4 linked regions of the Homo sapiens genome follow. The protein of the gene in region 3 purifies or fractionates together with the protein of the main gene of each other region. This does not show direct contact. Each region holds a gene or a part of one and is shown on either strand. Other genes may lie near its edges. The genes, in order: UFSP2, ODR4, FMR1NB and CWC22.

Region 1 (4,921 bases), on a different chromosome or scaffold from region 3:
GATATTAGTAATTTATTTATCTTTATTTTTTGACCCTTAACTTAGCGTCATCAAATAACATACTTGGGCTGTAATCATAGCAGGTTTATAAATTTAGACACATTCTTCCTGTGTCCCATGATATGGACCCTTCATTTGTTTGTTCATTCCTTTATTCCTTCCTTCATTCATTCAGCATTTATTCAGCAGCATTTATATTAACCGTGTGCCAGGCGTGTTGTAGAAGCTTGGGCCCAAAAATGGATAAGACACAGTGTATGTACTCACTGAGCTCACATATTAGTGTAAGTAGGCAGATATTTTTTAAATGATAAGTAATGTATCATTTAAAGTATATCAAGTCATGATATACTTTGAAAAATAAAAACATAAAGAGGACAGAGATGACAGGTGAGGCAGGGGGTGGGGTAGTGAGAGAATGAGTGGGCCGTTTGTAGACTGGATGGTCAAGGAAGACCTTTGACATCTAAATGGAAACCTGAGTGAAGTAAGAGTGCAAGCTGTACAATTAATTTGGGAAAAGAGAGTTCCAGGCCAAGAGAACCATGAGGCTCCAAGGTCATATTGCCCCTGGTATATGGGAACCGAAAGTAGAGGGAGCAATAGGGAAAAGTTTAGGAGATGAAATTGGAGAGGAGGCCAGAAGGTAGGTCCTGCTGGGCCCTGTGGTAAGGACTTTGAACCTCAAATAAAAAGCCAAGAAGGTATAATGTTAAACCATAGATCTGTGAAGGCATTTTTATAAGGAACTAAAGTAACAGTCTAACTCTAAGAACATTAAACATAATTCGGGAGCATATATAGAATATGTACTTCTATCCTAAGTTAATATTTTACTGTGTTTCTTCTCTGTATATAGATTTATGTGGTCCAGGGCATATATGGCTATCATCATTATATGCAGGATCGCATAGATGACAATGGCTGGGGCTGTGCTTATCGATCTCTGCAGACTATCTGCTCTTGGTTCAAACATCAGGGATACACAGAGAGGTCCATTCCAACACACAGAGAAATTCAGCAGGTACAGAACATACCGTTTTAAATTATAATCAACTGTATGTTTCATTAGCCCTTAATATACCATTGATAATTTTTGTTACCTCATGGTGCAGACTTATTTCTGTTTTGAAGAAAAAAAAATTCTTGTACTGGTAATCAGGGAAAATGCCCTAAACATCGTTTTTAATAGCTGTCTTGTGTATGGATGTTTTATATTTTTAAATACATCAAGGCTCTAGTCGATGCCGGGGACAAACCAGCAACATTTGTCGGATCGCGGCAATGGATTGGATCTATTGAGGTGCAGCTGGTACTAAACCAATTGATCGGTATAACGTCAAAAATCCTGTTTGTCAGGTAAGCACACTTTAAGAAATTAGATAAATCATTTCAAAGTGACAGTCTGTCATTTTAATTAAAATAATAGAAAAAATGGTATCTTCCCTTATTTCTTTTTATTCCTTTTCCTTCTTCCTTATTACTCATTGCTTTATAAATCTCATTTTTTAATCTTAATTTTTTTTCATTTTTTTTTGGAAGGCTCTGATTTTATGAATAAACTTTGTGATGTAATGTATACTTGTATTATTTAGGCCTAATTTTAGCCTAGAAGAGGAAAACTTAAAAATATATTAACGTTGAGTAAAGTCATAAAAATTATATTAACAGTTTCTTTATGCTCCAATCTTTTAAAAAGTCTTAAAAGGCAAAACTCAAATGTTGAACTATGACTGACCTTTTTGTTTACCTCCTGCTCTTTTTCTTTCTAAAACGTTAATAATCTAGTAATGTGTTCAAATAATGTATTCATTTTGTCTTTTCCAATGATCTTAACCATAATTCTAATATTAAAATGAGAAAATATAAATTAATTATTTTCTATGACCATAACTAGCTGACTCCTGATTGTATGAGCTTATGTTTTAAAATACATTTTCTAGCCAGGTGCAGTGGCTCACGCCTGTAATCGTAGCACTTTGGGAGGCCGAGGTGGGTGGATCCCCTGAGGTCAGGAGTTTGAGACCAGCCTGGCCAGCAGAGCAAAACCCTGTCTCTACTAAAAATACAAAAAAAATTAGCTGGGTATGGTGGCGCATGCCTGTAATCCCAGCTACTTGGGAGGCTGAGGCAGGAGAATCGCTTGAACCCAGGAGGTGGAGGTTGCAGTGAGCCAAGATCATGCCACTGCACTCCAGCACAGGCAACAAAGCGAGACTCCCTTTCAAAAAAAAAAAACAGAAAAATACATTTTCTAAAAAAAAAAAAAAAAAAAAAGAAAAGCCAAAAAACAAATAAAATACATTTTCTATTGTTAATTACAGTAACATCGTCCTCATTGTATCTTTTATGTGTTAAAGATGTAATTTTATCCTTTCCTCAGTGGTTATGGAAATCAGTGGTAAAAAAATGACAGACTGGCTGGGCACAGTGGCTCACGCCTGTAATCCCAGCACTTTGGGAGGCCAAGGTGGGTGGATCACCTGAGGTTGGCAGTTTGACACCAGCCTGGCCAACATGGTGAAACCCTGTCTCTACTAAAAATATAAAAATGAGCCGGGCATGGTGGCACACGTCTGTAATCCCAGCTACTCAGGAGGCTGAGGAAGGAGAATCGCTTGAACCTGAGAGGCGGAGGTTGCAGTGAGCTGAGATCGCGCCACTCCACTCCAGCCTGGGCAACAGAGCGAGCCTCCATCTCAAAAAATAATAATAATATAAAACAATGACAGACTTAAGTAGTGAAGAACTTTTTTTAAAAGTTACAGTTTTGGTACATTAAAACATACGTTCCTCATTAAGCAAGAGCTAAGGTTTAGCACCACCGGGCACCTTCCCCCAAAAAATACCTCCCTTCATTATCCCATCTATCTTTCTCTTTTCAAAAGTAAAAATTCTGAGATTCCCTAAAAATAGTATGTTGCACTTGAAAACATTTTGCAGTTTTCACATTGATTTCACAGACATGTATTTTAGGCCTAGACTCTCCTCTGTTATGTAGACAGGTCAGCGTTTTGGGTCCCAATTTAAAGATGAGGAAATACAGACTAAGAAGTCTACCAGCAAGAAGGCAAGAACCCAGGACTTAACACTCATTCTTCTGATTAATCCATCCATAAGAACTCCCTGAGCACCAAGGTGATGTTTTAACTTCATGTTAAAAACCCAGGCCTCCTTTATACAGTTCAAGAAGCAGAAAATCAAGGTCTTTTAGCGTCTTATCTAGCACACTTGGTGGCCTTAAGTATTTTGAGTTTATGTTGCTTTAAATTGCACAGTTTAATTGCTCTCAGTTCCCTAACACTTAATTTTTTTACATTTATATATTTTTTCAGTAACACCCGAAAAAACAAGAAAGTAGGAAACATTGTCTCCTAGCTCATTATTTGACCGTAGTGTTGGAAGTAGTTCATCTGATAGAAAATGGTTTCTTTCTAGCCAAGGTTCAGAAATTGCCTCTCAAGGACGGGAACTGGCTAATCATTTCCAAAGTGAAGGAACTCCAGTTATGATCGGTAAGCTGTTTCAGACACTGTTTTTGGTAGAGTGAGTAATATGCAAAACTTATCATTGATATAAATATTTAATGTTGCATAAAATCAGTCATTTAAAAAATTTTGAAATTAACTTTTACACCATATGTATGGATCTCTGGATATTGAAAAAAATTTCTAAGGTGGCTTAAAGGTTACAAAAAAGATTATAATAACCAGAAGAAGTAAAGGCTGAGAAATGGTAGCTATGTTCAAACATTTAAAGAGCTGAGAACAGTATTAAAAAGAGGAAACGGTCACTCAGCTGAGCTTCGTAAGTCATGACTCTGTCATAACTGGGCTGGCTTTGTGAGATTTTGCAATTACTTACCTCTGTGGATTTTATTTGTAAAATAAGAAGATTGGATTAGCTGATCTAAAGATGCTTAATTCTTTGAAGAACAAGACCTGTCCTGTGATGACAGAAGGCAAGGTGAGACTAGTGTGTAAGAAATGGAGGTAGAAGCTGGGCATAGTGGCTCACACCTGTAATCCTAGCACTTCGGGAGGCTGAGGCAGGAGGATAGCTTGCATCCAGGAATTCAAGACCAGCATGGGCCAGACCGCGTCTCTACCAAAAAAAAAAAAACACACAAATTAGCTGGCATGGTAGTGTGAGCCTATAGTGCCAGCTATTCAGGAGACTGAGGTGGGAGGATTGCTTGAGCCCAGGAGGCTGCAGTGAGCCAAGAGATCCACTGCTCTCCAGCCTGGGTTACAAAAGTGAGACACTGTCTCAAAAGAAAAAAAAAAAAAAAAGAAATGGAGGTAGGCTGATGTCAGCAAAATATCAGAAAGAACTTAATGAGTAGGCCGGGCCCAGTAGCTCACGCCTGACTCCTGATTGTATGAGCTTATGTTTTAAAATACATTTTCTAGCCAGGCACAGTGGCTCATGCCTGTAATCCAGCACTTTGGGAGGCTGAGGCGGGCGGATCACTTGAGGCCAAGAGTTCGAGACCAGCCTGGCCAACATGGCAAAACACTGTCTCTACTAAAAATACAAAATTTAGCTGGGTGTGGTGGCACACACCTGTAATCCCAACTACTTGGGATGCTGAAACAGGAGAATCGCTTGAGCTGTGAGGTGGAGGTTGCAGTGAGCCGGGATTGCCCACTGTACTCCAGCCTGGGTAGCAGAGCAAGACTCTGTCTCAAAAAAAAAGACTGGGCACAGTGGCTCACGCCTGTAATCCCAGCACTTTGGGAGGCCAAGGTGGGTCGATCACGAGGTCAGGAGATCGAGACCATCCTGGCTAACAGTGAAACCCCGTCTCTACTAAAAAAAAATACAAAAAATTCGCTGGGTGTGCTGGTGTGCGCCTGTAGTCTCAGCTACTCAGGAGGCTGAGGCAGGAGAATTGCTTGAACCTGGAAGGCAGAGGTTG
Region 2 (4,921 bases), on a different chromosome or scaffold from region 3:
AGGTGGGTGGATCATCTGAGGTCAGGAGTTCGAGCCCAGCCTGGCCAACATGGTGAAACCCTGTCTCTACTAAAAATACAAAAATTAGCCAGGCGTGGTGGTGGGCACCTGTAATCTCAGCTACTCGGGAGGCTGAGGCAGGAGAATTGCTGGAACCCGAAGCTAATATGAATGTTTCAATTATGTACATATCTAAATGTGAATTGCAAATCCACTAACATCAGAATAATAAGAATGGGGAGGCCGGGCGCGGTGGCTCATGCCTGTAATCCCAGCACTTTGGGAGGCCGAGACGGGCGGATCACGAGGTCAGGAGATCGAGACCATCCTGGCTAACACGGTGAAACCCCGTCTCTACTAAAAATACAAAAATTAGCCGGGCATGGTGGCGCGTGCCTGTAGTCCCAGCTACACAGGAGGCTGAGGCAGGAGAATGGCGTGAACCCGGGAGGCGGAGCTTGCAGTGAGTCGAGATCGCGCCACTGCACTCCAGCCTGGGCGACAGAGCGAAACTCCGTCTCAAAAAAAAAAAAAAAAAAAGAAAAAAAAAAAGAATGGGGAGATGATGATGTAGCTTTAAAAAGTGTACTCAATATTTTAACTTGCTTTTGATTAAAAAAATTTTTTAATACAGATTACTGCGATGGTATAAATTGTTATGTTTCCCAAAAGCTGCAATCGTTATTAATGGGTAAGATACTGTAACTCAGCCTTTTTTAAACGTAATGAAGTCTGTTAGAGTAATAGCTGAGAAGCATATAAACTAGTGTAGTTTATATAAATAGTACCTACTAAAGGAGCTATTATATAGTATTTAACACTAATAATATTTTGATTATGGCTAAATTATTTAAAATACTCATAGATATCAACAAAAAATACTAACTTTAAAATGTTAACAAAGTTTACTCATTCTGGCAGGAGAAGTTCACTTGGAATTAATTTTTTTAAAAATCCTCCCTGAAATTCTTAATTGTTGACAAATTTGCTAAATTTGATAGTGTTCTAAAACGTTTTTCTAGAGCCAAGCATGGTGGCTCACACCTGTAATCCCAGCACTTCGGGAAGCCAAAGACAGTGGATCACTTGAGTTCAGGAGTTTGAAACTAGCCTGGGCAACATGGCAAAACCCTGTCTCTAAAAAAACAATACCAAAAATTAGCAAGGCATCATGGCATGTGCCTGCAGGCCCACCTACTAGGGAGGCTGAGGTAGGAGGACTGCTTGAGCCCAAGAGGCTGAGGCTGCAGGTGAGCCATGACTGTGCCACTGCACCCCAGCCTGGGCAACACAGTGAGACTCTGTCTAAAAAAAAAAAAAAAAATCTGAGTAGCAACTGAAAAATTTTCATCCAATAATAAAAGATGATATACTGCTTGAAAATATAGATAGGTAGCTATAAAAGATGACGTATCTGCTATATCTTGATATCTTATTACTATATCAGTTGAAGATACGCAAAAAAGTACTTATTTTATACTCATAACTTTTTTTTCTGGAATTTCATTCAAAAGCAGATCCTCAAATAGCATTTCACAACGATCAGCAACTGTGTTCAATATATCCCTCTTTACTGCCTACAGGGAAAAACACACAAAAAACACAGTAAGAAATAAAATACTTTAGATTTACAATATTTAACTAACAAAAAAAATAATTTGCTTTCCAGTACAATCATGCCCACTAAATAACTGATACATCATTCAATGTTTTATTTCCACTTATTTAGCACACTTATTAACAAATTTATAGTTTAATGATAAATTTATCTAAATAGTTAAAAACAGATAAATGAATAAAATTTCACATCTAAAAAAATAATTGCAGTGTTCCAAATTAGATACTAATATGTATAACAGTGGAACACTTACTAAACTTGTATAGCCATCATTTTTAAAAAGGCACAAAATAGATACTCTACATATGAAAATCTTCACACCAATTATATGGTACATTTGGACTGCACAATAGGCCATTATCAGTTAAAATCGAATTAATAATTACAAAATATAAGATTAAAAAATGGTAAAATTTTAGGTTTTTGTTAATAGTTAACATGGTTCCATATGCTCGTTATTCCTTTTTGTACCTGCACAGCATCTTTAACTTTGGGTTTACTGCTGTGGATATAAGCTCTGCATTTCACAGCACCCTTAAGGTTTACAGAACCGCTACATATCTGGACTGTGGCTGTGGATCTGTGGTCTGAATTCAGGAGCTGAAAGACAAAATCTGTTTAAGTTCTAATAACCAACAATGATTAACTACAGGAAATATTTAAACATTATATTAGCGATTTTATGAAGAGAGAACAAAGTTTTGACTGAGCCAAGCATTTGAAATTATTCTCTGCAAATTATTTAAAGGCCTTCATATTTGTTTTTATAAGTTATATATTATTTTCCAGTCATTTTGAAGATATAATGAAATTAAACACAACTACATCTAAATTTTTCTAACATAACCATCTAAAATGGTTCAATATTCACTCGATATGCTCCTAAAAATATATTATTTGCAAATTATTCACATCAGTACTGTGATGATTAAAAGATATACAAAGAAGATATGATGTACTAGATATAAGTTGTGCAATGCAAAATAAGTTCACAATAACAAATACAAAGTGGGATGTGATAACTATGGTAAAACTACAAGCAATGCACAGACACATATATTTACACACTTTCAACCAAAAACTTTCATAGACTAGTCCCATCCTCTTTAGTCTAAGGAATGCCAGTGCTCTTGTTCGGTTTTCAGGTGTTTCACATATATTTTCAACCCCATCATCTTAATAAGTGCCAAAAACAAGGACAGTATCAAAATAGTTAAAGTACTACAGGTTGAGCATCCCTAATCTAAAAATCCTGAATGCTCCAAAATCCAAAACTTATTGAGCACCAATGTGATGTTCAAAGGAAAAGGTAATTGGAGCATATAAGATTTTAGATTTTTGGCTTAGAGATGCTCAACTGGTATGTATTCTGCAAATATTACAAAATCTAAAAAAAATCCCAAACCCAAAACACTTCTGGTCCTAAGCATTTCAAATAAGGCACACTCAACCTGTAATAGAGGCCTATAATAACAGTGGAAACAAAAAATAATGATTTACAAAAAATAACCAAAAAATGGAAATGGTAAGGAAGTAATTTATGTTCTAAGAACACTTGGAGTATAAGTCATTCAACAACCAAATCAATTCTGAAGAACAAAAGTCAAATCATACAACTTGTGAAAAGTGCTTTGTGCCTATGTGCTTATGCAATCAGGAATAAATGCGGAAAAATAATGAAGAGGAGAATACTGACATGCATAGCTATTGAAAGAGCATTATTGATGTCTAGTGTAATTCAAGCAATGTCTAAGGCAATGTAAATCTTCTAGGTGTTGTTAAACAATTTAAACTTTAAGATGGTCAAGGACTTGTTGACAAAAAATTTGCCACAGACCACACAGCTCCAAAGGTCCTGGGTCCATTCAAAAATGGCTATCATCAAACCAAGCAGCAGTGTGACGATGCTGATACAATGTCTGGAATAAGCTTCCATATGACACATGTAGAGTTCATTGATACATCAATAAGGTGGGGTTGGAGGAGGAGTAACAGGCTTCCCCTATCTACTCCATAACTTTTTATTGTAGACAAAACTACTCTAAAAAGAATGTCCTATTTTACATATTTAACATATAATTTATATATTTTTAACATATAACACATTTATATATTAGTATATGTAAATATATGTGTATGTGTGTATATACATATATCTATCTATCTATCTATCTATCTATCTATCTATCTATAATTATGGCATTGTTATCCAAAACAGACTAGACTATTAAAGACTATACACACACATATTAAAGAAAAGAGGTATTTTTTTGGTTGGTTGGTTAGTTTTATTTTGTTTTGTTTGAGGCAGGGTCTTGTTCTGTCATCCAGCCTAGAGTACAGTGATGCTATCAGAGCTCACTGCAGCCTCAAGCTCCTAGGCTCAATCGATCCTCCCACCTTCGCCTCCCAAGTAGCTGGGACTACAGGCACACACCATCACCCCCAGCTAATTTTTGTATTTTTTTGTAGAGACAGGGTTTCACTTGTTGCTCAGACTCATCTTGAACTCCTAGGCTCAAGCGATCACCCTGCCTAGGCCTCCCAAAGTGCTGGGATTACAGGCATGAGCTACCATGCTCAGCCAGGAAAAGTTTTAAAGAATGTAAGGTCTGACTCATTCCTTTTAGGTGGAAATGTAGACCAGTTGGGGTCTACAAATGTAAACTCCTCTTGGTTATTTGGACTTAGGAATAACCTGGCTGCCAAACAGCCTATAGGTGAGGGAACTTCTATGATGCTGACATGGCATTTGAAAAAGAGAAGATCCCCATTTCTATGGGAACCAAATGAAATCTTACACAAGTAGTGGCATTTGGGCTAGATCTTAATGTACAGATAGGATTTTGACAGTTTGGGTGACAGAGAAAAGAGCAAAGACATGATACATAGTTCAGGAAATACAGAGCTTTAAAGGTATGGCAAGCATACATCTAGAAAATAAGAGGTAGAAAATAAGAACAAAAAGGTATGCTGAGGCTATGAAGAACCCTGAGTTGGACTTCTCTAACTAGTCAGTACAGAACACTTAAGAAATTTTGAGCAAGGAGTACCATAATCAGTGTCCGGCTGTTGTACAAACTCAATAAATACTTCTTGAAAAAAATTAATAACTGAACATAAACTATGATTCAGAAATGATCATCTGAGTGTATAAACAGGATAGAGTAGATAAATGGAAAGTATTTCAAGAGATATACTAACAAAGGTAGAAGGGATTTAGAGAAACAATCACTTTGGACAAGAATGTATAGATGAAGAGAGACCAGTTAAGGGCTACTTGTGCTAGTTTAGGTAAAATAA
Region 3 (4,921 bases):
CAGTATGTATTCCAACTAAATCAGATCCCATCACAGAAAGTCTTGGAAAATATGTTGGCTTACATATATATTGACAAAAATCAAGGCCTTACATACAGTAAAACCTTCCTTATCCTTCTTTCTCACTATTTTAAAGAACTGGTTTTTAGTCTTATTTACACAATTCCCTCCTACATGAGAGAAGAGGATAACACAGATTTGTCCATAGCATTAAATATTTCCCAAAACTATCTTTAATAATGTCACAGAATTCCATTATATGGCTCTATTATAACTCAGTTAGCAATTTCTCCATAGGAAAACATTTAGGCTGTTTACAATTTATTGATGTTATAAAGAACACTGCAATGATTATCATTACATTATCGTTAGCTTGCAATGATTATCACTGAAGCTTTATATTTATATATTTGCAAATATTCATGAAAAATTACTTAAGATAAATTCTTAAGGCATGGTGGCTCTTGAGTATGTCCAAATTACCCTCCAGCAGGGCAACCCTAAAATACACTTCTACCAGTAGTACAGGCAAGTGCCAGTTTTCTGACACCTCTCCATTTTTTATTATTTGCCAATTTGATGGCCAAAATAAAACAAAATATCTTTTGTTTTAATTTGCAACTTTCATAATCAGTGAGCTTACATATTTCATATTGTGTTGCATAGTAGAGAACTTAACTCTTAATCTGCCACATATTTAAAATATTTTTTTCAAGGTAATTGGTTATCCTTACTTTTTTATGGTGTTTGGGAAGCTCAGAAGCTTAAAATGTTATATGTAATTAAATCTATCAATCTCTTCCTTTATTATTTTTACCTCTATAAAGGCATTCTATACTCTAATACTCCCAACATTTTCATGGTTGTACTTTTTAAATTTAAATATTTAATACACCTGGAGTATATTTTGGAGTGTGTTGTGGAGTAGGGATACGATTTTTCCAGCAGTCATAAGGCCCTTTATTAAATCCATCCTTTTCTGTTATACTTAAGATAACATCATCACATTCTAAATCCTTACTATATCCTTATAGTCATAGATCTGCTTCTTGACTTTCTATTCTGTTCCACCAACCTATCTATTCATGTGCCAATACTAATGTTATTGTTTATTTTATCTTTTCTTTTATTTTTTTTTTGAGACAGAGTATCGCTCTGTTGCCCAGGCTGGAGTGCAATGGCGCAATCTCAGCTCACTGCAACCTCCGCCTTCCTGGTTCAAGTGATTCTTGTGCCTTGGCCTCCCGAGTAGCTGAGATTACAGGCATGCACCATCACGCTCAACTAATTTTTGTATTTTTAGTAGAGACGGGGTTTCACCATGTTTCCCAGGCTGGTATCGTGATCCACCTGTCTAGGCCTCCGTAAGCCACTGCACCCGGCCTATCTTATGTCATTATGTTTTAATAACTGATCTGGTAATCCTTTCATTGTCTCTACTATCAAATTTTATTTTCAGCTCTGAGAATTTTTTAGATGAACCTTAAAATCGTTTTGTCAAGTCAAAAAAAATTCTAAATTTTATGGTAATTATGTTCACTTATTTATCATTCATTCAAAAATCATTTATTGTGTGTCCCACGTGCTAGGCATGAATTCAATTAAATGTAGACTCATTTGGAGAGAATTGATAATGTTACAAAATTTTTTCACCTAAGTAGTTTTGTTTCTCTGTTCATTCAAGTCTCTTTTTATGTCCCTGAATAAGGTTTATCATTGTATTCAGATAGGCCCTGCACTTTTCTTAGTACATTTATTCCCAGGCATCATATATATTTTGTTGTTTTGTGAACATAATCCATTTCACCACATTTTCTAGTGGATTGATGGTATGTAAGAGAGCTATTGATTTTTATACATATATTTTCTTCCTCCCTTAGTTAACTCTCGTTAGTTCTCATTGTTCTTCAGTTTCATTCCAGATAGACAATAATATTATCACTAAATATAGATGACTTTGTCTCCTTTCTTTACAATATTAACACCTGAATTATTTTTCTTCTTTCACTGTATTGCCTAGAAATGTTTAAACTATGTTGATTAATAACCATAATAATGGGCGTTCTTGAGTCATTCCTGACTTTAATGGGAATGTGCTAATATTTCATAATGAAGTATAATGTTGGCTGCTGGTGTAAGATAGATACCCTTTATTAAATTAAGGATGTATTTCTCTAGTTTTAGTTTTCTACAAATTTTCTGTTGTTATTTTGTTTCATTTTGAATCAGGGATAGAACTGGGATTCTATCAAATCCTTTTAATATTTACTGCCATGATGATATTTCCCCCTGCCTATTAATTATTGAATGTTATTAATATATTTGCCAATATTAAAATATTCTTGCATTCTTGAACAAAGTCCACAAGTGCTAATGTTTTATATAGGATTCATGATTCAACATTCCTAAGTGAAGTGTGTCTGCAGTTTTCTTTTGTGTGCTACATCTGTAAATTTTGGCATAAGAGTTATACCTGTTTCATTCATAAAATAACCTAGGAAGCTTCCTGTTGCTTTTCTAGACTAAAACAGATGAAACAATATAGGAATGATTTGATCCATTAAAGGTTTGGGAAAACTCATCCAGAAAAAGTCTGAGTCTTCATTTTTTGGAGAGGGGTAGTTCTTTATCTTTTGCTTCTTCATGGTCACAGTTAATTTTGTTATTTTTATTTTGCTAGGAAATCATCTATTTACAAAGCAATTATTAGCATGGAATCATAAGACTATTCACTTGTAATATTTAAATCTCCTTTATATCAATGATAATATCTTCTTTCTCATTTTAATGAGAGCAACTTCCATACACATACATTTGAATGTGTACTCTCACAATGAACTCTATTATAAATGTTAAATCAAGCTAAATTATATTATGCAAATGCTCTGTATCTTTATTTTTCTGTCAAGGACTAAAAGATAAATATTAAAGTATCTCACCATGATTGTGGTTTTGACGATTTCTACTTAAATTTCTAAAACTATTTGTTTCATATATTCCAATAGTGCATATTCAATCATGACAATTTTATCTTCACTATATATTACACCTTGACAATATTAAACATAATCCATTTTGTCCTGCTTGTTTTCTACTAATGCTTACTCATTATTGAACACCCACTATATTCTGTGTTTTGAGGATATATCAGTGAACAAGTCAGACAAGATCCCTGCCCTCATGGAGCTTACTACAATGCAGTGGAGAAGACAGACCACTAACAAATTAAGTAATTACAAATTGTAATGAGTGCTATGAAGAAAAGTGGATACTGATACAGAATAAAGGAGGGGGGCTACTTTAAATGGGAGCCAGTCTCTCTGAGGAGATGATATTTAAGTGGAAAAAAAAAAAAGACTAGAAGTAGCTGGCTGAACAAAGGGCCTGGGAGAGTGCTTCCAGCACAAGGACAAGAAATGAGATTAATGTTGCTAGGCACATTTTGCCAGATCAGAGAACCCTCTGTCCTACATGACATGAGAAGGGAGCTACAGATGGAAGGGACCTTGACAAGACTTTAGTTCCATATTGCTGTTTGTTTGCTCAGTGTTCCCCTTCGTCAATTTGCTGTCCTTGTTGCCACTCGATTCAGCACACCATCTGAAGTAAGTGTTGGCTGACAGTAGCACACTGAGGCCCAAGTCTCCATCCTAAGTTATATTCAGCAAGTTATGTGCTCTCTGGAATTCCTCTAGAATATTGATCCCCCAACTTAGAGTCCCCAACTCAGAGTGCCCTAGCCTCCAGACCCTGCTGGACAGGCTTGCCCTTGGCTTGACATGAAACACAAGTTGCTGTGATTTCTCTCCATCATGTTTTTATCTTTCAGAGAACCCTCCAAGTTTCTGGCATATAGATGCCAGATGGAAACTTTCTAGGTTCTCCAGGTTTTCACCCTTTATAGATCTTTCGGTCATTACAATGGGCATTGAAATGAAAGCGACAATTAAACATCTTAACTAAGATGAGCAACATCAGTGGCAGTCTCAACCATAAGTCTAGAATATATTTTACCCTGCCCTCCACCTTTGGTTTCTTCCGTACTCTGAAAGAAAATTATTTTTAAATTAATTTGAGCAGTATGTCTCAAAGTGTAGTCTATCACTAGTAGTACATAAGAATTTTAGGTGGAACATAGATGAATATTTATGGATATATTAATGTTTGCTATGAGTTTATTTGAAAGTGTAAAAGAAAAAAATGAGTAACATATCAAACCTACCATGACACCAAACACGGCTGACATCACTTGCCATAGGGCAAATCTTTATAAACTTTGTCTTTTTTGATACTTTGAGTTCTGGGATACATGTGCAGAATGTGCAGGTTTGTTACATAGGTATACATGGGCCATGGTGGTTTGCTGCACCCATCAACCCGTCATCTACATTAGGTATTTCTCCTAATGCTCTCCCTCCTCTAGCCCCCCACCCCCTGACAGGCCCTGGTGTGTGATGTTCCTCTCCCTGTGTCCATATGTTCTCATTGTTCAACTCCCACTTATGTGTGAGAACATGCGGTGTTTAGTTTTCTGTCCCTGTGTTAGTTTGCTGAGAATGATGGTTTCAAGCCTCATCCATGTCCCTGCAAAGGACATGAACTCATTCTTTTTTATGGCTGCATAGTATTCCATGATGTATATGTGCCATATTTTCTTTATCCAGTCTATCATTGATGGGCATTTGGGTTGGTTCCAAGTCTTTGCTATTGTAAATAGTGCTGCAATAAACATACGTGTGCATGTGTCTTTATACTAGAATGATTTATAATCCTTTGGGTATATACCCAGTAATGGGATTGCTAGGTCAAATGGTATTTCTGGTTCTAGATACTTGAGGAATTGCCACACTGTCTTCCACAATGGTTGAACTAATTTATACTCCCATCAACAGTGTAAAAGCGTTCCTGTTTCTCCACATCC
Region 4 (4,921 bases), on a different chromosome or scaffold from region 3:
ATATATAGTGTATATATATACACACACGTATATATAGTGAATATATGTACAAAAAATTTTAAAAACCTTCTCTGTTGTGTATGTACACGTACACACACATACATAGAACTGTGCCAAGTACTGGGGGAGAGGTGGAAGTCATCAACAAAAGGGAGAAATCAAGGATGAAGACCATATAATTACAATATATATGGAGTGAGACAACCAGAAAGACACTAACAATACAAGGTGGTTTTGGACATTTGGTTTTCAGCACCACACTGAGTAACTACTCAGTGGAGTCAGAAAAAACTTTCTCACAGAAAAAGGTACAATATAAGAAGAATGATTAAGAGTTTCCCAGATAGATCAATAAGACAGGAGAATGCCAGCAGTGGAAACTGAGGTAAGGAAGCATGAAAGAGCCAGATATGTTTAACAAGCTTGGCAGTGTTGGTATGGCTGGAGTGCAGCTTGCTGAAGAGAGAGAAGACGAGCCTGGTCAAGTAGACAGGGACCAAATAAGTAAGTATATGAAGCCAAGAGAAGTGGATGGAATAGTCCAGAGACAGTGTGTGGAACCCAGGAACACTGAAGAGGCAGGCTGAGGAGAAGACTGAGAGAGGAAGTGAGAAGAAAGTATGGAGCCACAGTGAGTAGGTAGTCAACTGCATAAGTGAGGCAGAGAAGTGAAGAGGCATGCAGCCTGAGAAAGACAACTGAATATGGCAGGTGGTCACTGAGAAATCTGAAAGGATGATTTCAGTAGTGTCAATGGAGTAGAAGTCAACCTAAGTGGCAATCTGAACAAACAGGAAATAAGAAAGGTGAGAGGGGATTACATAATAATCCTGAAATAAGGCTCTAGTTCTATGTAATATTTTGAACAATTATTAATAGATGAAATATATACTCAAAACTGTCCACTGATAATATTAGTTATCATTCTAAGGCTTAAAATTAGGGTAAAAAGAAAATAAAATTATAAATATCACTGGAGAATTCAAGTGAGCATACAAAAACAATTCTGTATTTTCTAAGAAAATCTAAAAAGGCATTAATTTGAACTCCACTTAAACTAAAAACCACCACTAAAAGTTGCATGTTGTCCTGTGTGACATAACATGAAATTCACAGTGATTAATGGATGAAGAAAGTCTCAGGGGGCTTAGCTCTTGTTTTTACAGTCTCGGATGGGCTTATGTCTGCTACAATGGGAGAAAACCAGAGGTCAATAAGAATAAAAAGTGCTTAATGGCAAACTTACTCATCCTTTAATCTTGCATTAAGTTTAGGAAGACCCATGTATTCACACAGTTCCTGGAAAAATATTTTGACAAAAATTCTACTGGATGATGTAGTGGTTTCTTCACTCAGTTTTATACATTCAAGAACCTGAAAATTAAAATAAAAAAAGACAAGTATATTTTAATTTATAAAAGACAGGACATAGTGACCAATATTTGTAGGTTTAAGTGTTTCTCAAAATTACTATTTATTCCCATCTTCAACCAGAGTTATCTCTGAATATCTCCCCTTATGCTGACATAAAGTTTAAAACTACTTCTCTATACTAACTTTCAAAATGTTAAGATGCGACAGAAATAGATTTCATTCTCTGTTTTGAGTAATGTGCTTTTTATAGCAGGGAAGATATCCTCTCTTGAGCATATAATGGTAAAGATTACTAGCTCCTAAACCTTACTCATCAAAATGTGGTGTATATGAAGGTTTGGGGCAAAATGCCACTTAGCACATTAGGCTACAATTTTGTTTAGCACACATAACATACGATTTAAAAAAAGACAGAAAGTATAATGGTTTATTCTGAATATTAAGACTGTGGCTTAAAAACTGAAATGCCTAAAGAAATATTTTTAGGGAAAATAAAAATAAAAGTAACCTCTAGTTTTTATGGGTTATGTGTTTGGGGGGCCCATTAGTTGGTTAATTGTTTAAAATTCTCACTTCATTTTCTCAAAGAGGGGAAAAAAGAAGTCAAAAATTATTACAATTAGTCTCCTAGGTTAGATTACGAATGCCTATTAATGTAGCTGGACATACTTGGTACTTAAAGTACTATAAAAATCTAACCAATGTTTTTAAGTTTGAGATATTGCCTCATTCTACCATTAGTAGGATGGCATTCTACAAGATAATCCTGTTCTTTCCTCCTGGATGTAATTTCTCATCCTTCTCTCTTTCTTTCTTTCAAATTCCTTTAGTAATTTTGCTTTTCTTAGAATCTAAGACTTTTTATTTTGTATCATTGCTATGGGCATATCTTACCTCTGGTCTTATACTGTAACCCTCTTGAAAGGAGGGGCCATGTATAATTCACTCTGAATACACAGCACCTCTCTCAATGACTCAGTATATAAGTGGTGGCTAACTAACACTGGTTGAAAAACAGCTGTAAAATCAATGCCAGCTTAATGAACGCCTTTCAAATTTCAATCCAGTGCACATTTCCCTATCAAGAATATATCTTTCTTTGTTCTATGACTATAGGATATCCTCTCTATAGCTTACCCAACTTCAATGTCTGCTAAAAAGAACACATCCTTCTAGAACAATCATTTTTTCTCAAACCCAACAAGAGAACCATGGAGAGTTATTCCCTCAGGAATCAAGGGAGAGTAATTCAGAGACACATTTACCACCAAAATAGTGGCATATGTGGATGTGAGTGTGCATGCACGTGTGTGTACACAGAGAAGATGAAAATCTGCAGTACTTTTCCTGAAGACACTCCTAGCCATCACTATCGAAACACTGGCATGTTTGGACTGTTAATATAATACAAAGATAGTATTTCTTGTATATTATTTACCTAGCTTTCTGATTCCTTATAACATGATGATAATCTCAAAGACAGCAGTTCTACACATTTCATTTTAAAGCACATTTCATAATAGGATAAATATGGCTAGCTTATACGAAAATCTATTTGAGAACAGGGAATTAGGAAGGAAGTATAAATATTGACCCATGTACTTACACTCCATGGAAGTGAATCAGTGTATAAAAGGTGAGCAAACATCTTAGCAACATTTCGCAACTTGTTTGTTTCCAAGCGATGGATGGTATCATACTGTTCTTTGAATATACCTTCAAAGGATTCCATGTACTCTTTCTTTAGCATGCAAAATCGCTAATAAATAAAAAATCAGTACCATTAAAAATTGAATGTTAATACAATTATGAGCATATTAAATCCTAAATTTACTGAATCAAAACTTTATTAATATGCTTTATATTTTCAAAGAGCATATATCACTAAATCCTTTTGTGCCATATGATGCTCAAAAAAGAAGTTAATATATATGGTTTCTAATTACCTGAGATTTACATGTTAAAACAAAATCATACATGTAGGTGATCACATGAGGGTAGAGCTTAAAGAAATATTTTAGATCATGCTTTAATTGTGCTGCCTGAACATGTACTTGACTTTAGACACTGCTTTGAGATTTTGAAAAGACAGCATTTACTTGTCGTCTATTGGGAAATCATTACAAATCATGGAAAATTCCAAAAAGCTCTGGAAAAGTGATATGCAAAGTTAAAGCACTGCAAAAATGAAGTAGAAAAAGAGGAAGGTGAAGAGAGTGGGAAACCTGAGGAAGGAGAGAATAATTTGCTTTTAGCAAAAGTGGTAATATGTTTTTAAATGAGACCAGACCATAAAGCAGAAATCATTAATTTACAATATTCGTTTTAAGAATTCCCTCAGTAGAGGCTGGAACTCACCCCAGCTAATAAGCCAAAAAATTTTTCGTATGTCCTCTGTTGGGCACAGCAATCAAGTATCATGTTGCAGAGTTCTTTCTATTTGGGAAAAAAAATACATTAATGATTCAAAACACAAAGAGACTAAATATTGTATAATTTACCAGTATGATAGTGACTGCCTGCATTTTTAAATAAGGGTTTAAAACAGTTCAAAAATTTTGTAAATAAAATAAAAACCTCAATCTATGTTAAACTCATCATTTTTTACAGGCTTGGGTCTGGCTGACAGCTTCCACAGTCATTTATGCTAATTACATTAATTATAAAATTCTAAATTCATGATAAGTATGAACCACATCAAGAAAATCTAGTATAGGAAACAGACATATGAGGGAGAGATTTAATACACTGCATTCTTAAAGGATTCTATGCAGAATTCTTTTAAATATAGACTCACCAACACAACATCTAACAATTCAGTTACATATGTCCCAAGGATATGAATTCAATTGCTAAGGAATATATTTAGCATGGAAAAGGCAGATCATTATTAGTCTTTACAGAGGCATAAGTAGGTACAACTTCAACGTTAACATAAAGTTAACGTTGATAAAGAAACATCAAAAAACACCTCTGTGGATGAATTTTCTCACCTCAAAATAAATGTTATTCATATAGACCTATCTATATGGATCTATACAAATAAATGGAATCATTCCATAACTGCTAGTATATTATTCCAATTAGCTATTCAGGCGCCATGTAAACCTCTCTGAAAATTCTGTTAAACTAATGGATAAATGCCCAGTCAAGAAATACTATCATCACAGATGATTTCTACTTAACAAATTAGTTTCTTAATTAATATATTAATTCCTGAAATAATTCAAATGAAATATGTATTGATTATAGCAATGTCATAGATGAAAAAACTCAAGCAACATAAGGTGAATAGAGACAAAATGAAAAAAGGTGTTAATTCATCTACGATCAGTGTAATCTTTTCTATAAAGATTTACCAGAAACTTAAAACAATTTTCCAAATAGAGTAACTGTAATATACTTGCTTTGTGCAAACAGAAAGCAAGCATATAAAAACGTGTTGCTTTTTAATTTTTACCTTTATATTTTCAATGAACAATTTTGACATTTTGTCATATTTACTAACACAGGATATAACCTAACTAAAAATAGTAAATATTTTAAA

The links.
Region 1: the proteins of FMR1NB (region 3) and UFSP2 purify together in Homo sapiens (affinity purification with mass spectrometry; one large-scale study listed by BioGRID and IntAct). This does not show direct contact.
Region 2: the proteins of FMR1NB (region 3) and ODR4 purify together in Homo sapiens (affinity purification with mass spectrometry; one large-scale study listed by BioGRID and IntAct). This does not show direct contact.
Region 4: the proteins of FMR1NB (region 3) and CWC22 purify together in Homo sapiens (affinity purification with mass spectrometry; 3 studies listed by BioGRID and IntAct, with this or other methods). This does not show direct contact.

Annotation. Positions count from the first base shown.
Region 1 is NC_000004.12:185,404,374-185,409,294, reverse strand, and holds part of UFSP2 (ufm1-specific protease 2), read left to right. Parts: exon of another isoform or gene 1-859; coding exon 860-1,024; intron 1,025-1,234; coding exon 1,235-1,359; intron 1,360-3,335; exon of another isoform or gene 3,336-3,438; coding exon 3,439-3,515; intron 3,516-4,921. UniProt on the Homo sapiens protein: Thiol-dependent isopeptidase that specifically cleaves UFM1, a ubiquitin-like modifier protein, from conjugated proteins, such as CD274/PD-L1, CYB5R3, DDRGK1, MRE11, RPL26/uL24, TRIP4 and RPL26/uL24.
Region 2 is NC_000001.11:186,395,610-186,400,530, reverse strand, and holds part of ODR4 (protein odr-4 homolog), read right to left. Parts: intron 2,233-4,921; coding exon of another isoform or gene 2,219-2,232; coding exon 2,090-2,218; intron 1,578-2,089; coding exon 1,487-1,577; intron 1-1,486. UniProt on the Homo sapiens protein: May play a role in the trafficking of a subset of G-protein coupled receptors.
Region 3 is NC_000023.11:147,997,968-148,002,888, reverse strand, and holds part of FMR1NB (FMR1 neighbor protein), read right to left. Parts: intron 1-4,921.
Region 4 is NC_000002.12:179,951,225-179,956,145, forward strand, and holds part of CWC22 (pre-mRNA-splicing factor CWC22 homolog), read right to left. Parts: intron 3,811-4,921; coding exon 3,733-3,810; intron 3,134-3,732; coding exon 2,981-3,133; intron 1,375-2,980; coding exon 1,247-1,374; intron 1-1,246. UniProt on the Homo sapiens protein: Required for pre-mRNA splicing as component of the spliceosome. As a component of the minor spliceosome, involved in the splicing of U12-type introns in pre-mRNAs. Promotes exon-junction complex (EJC) assembly.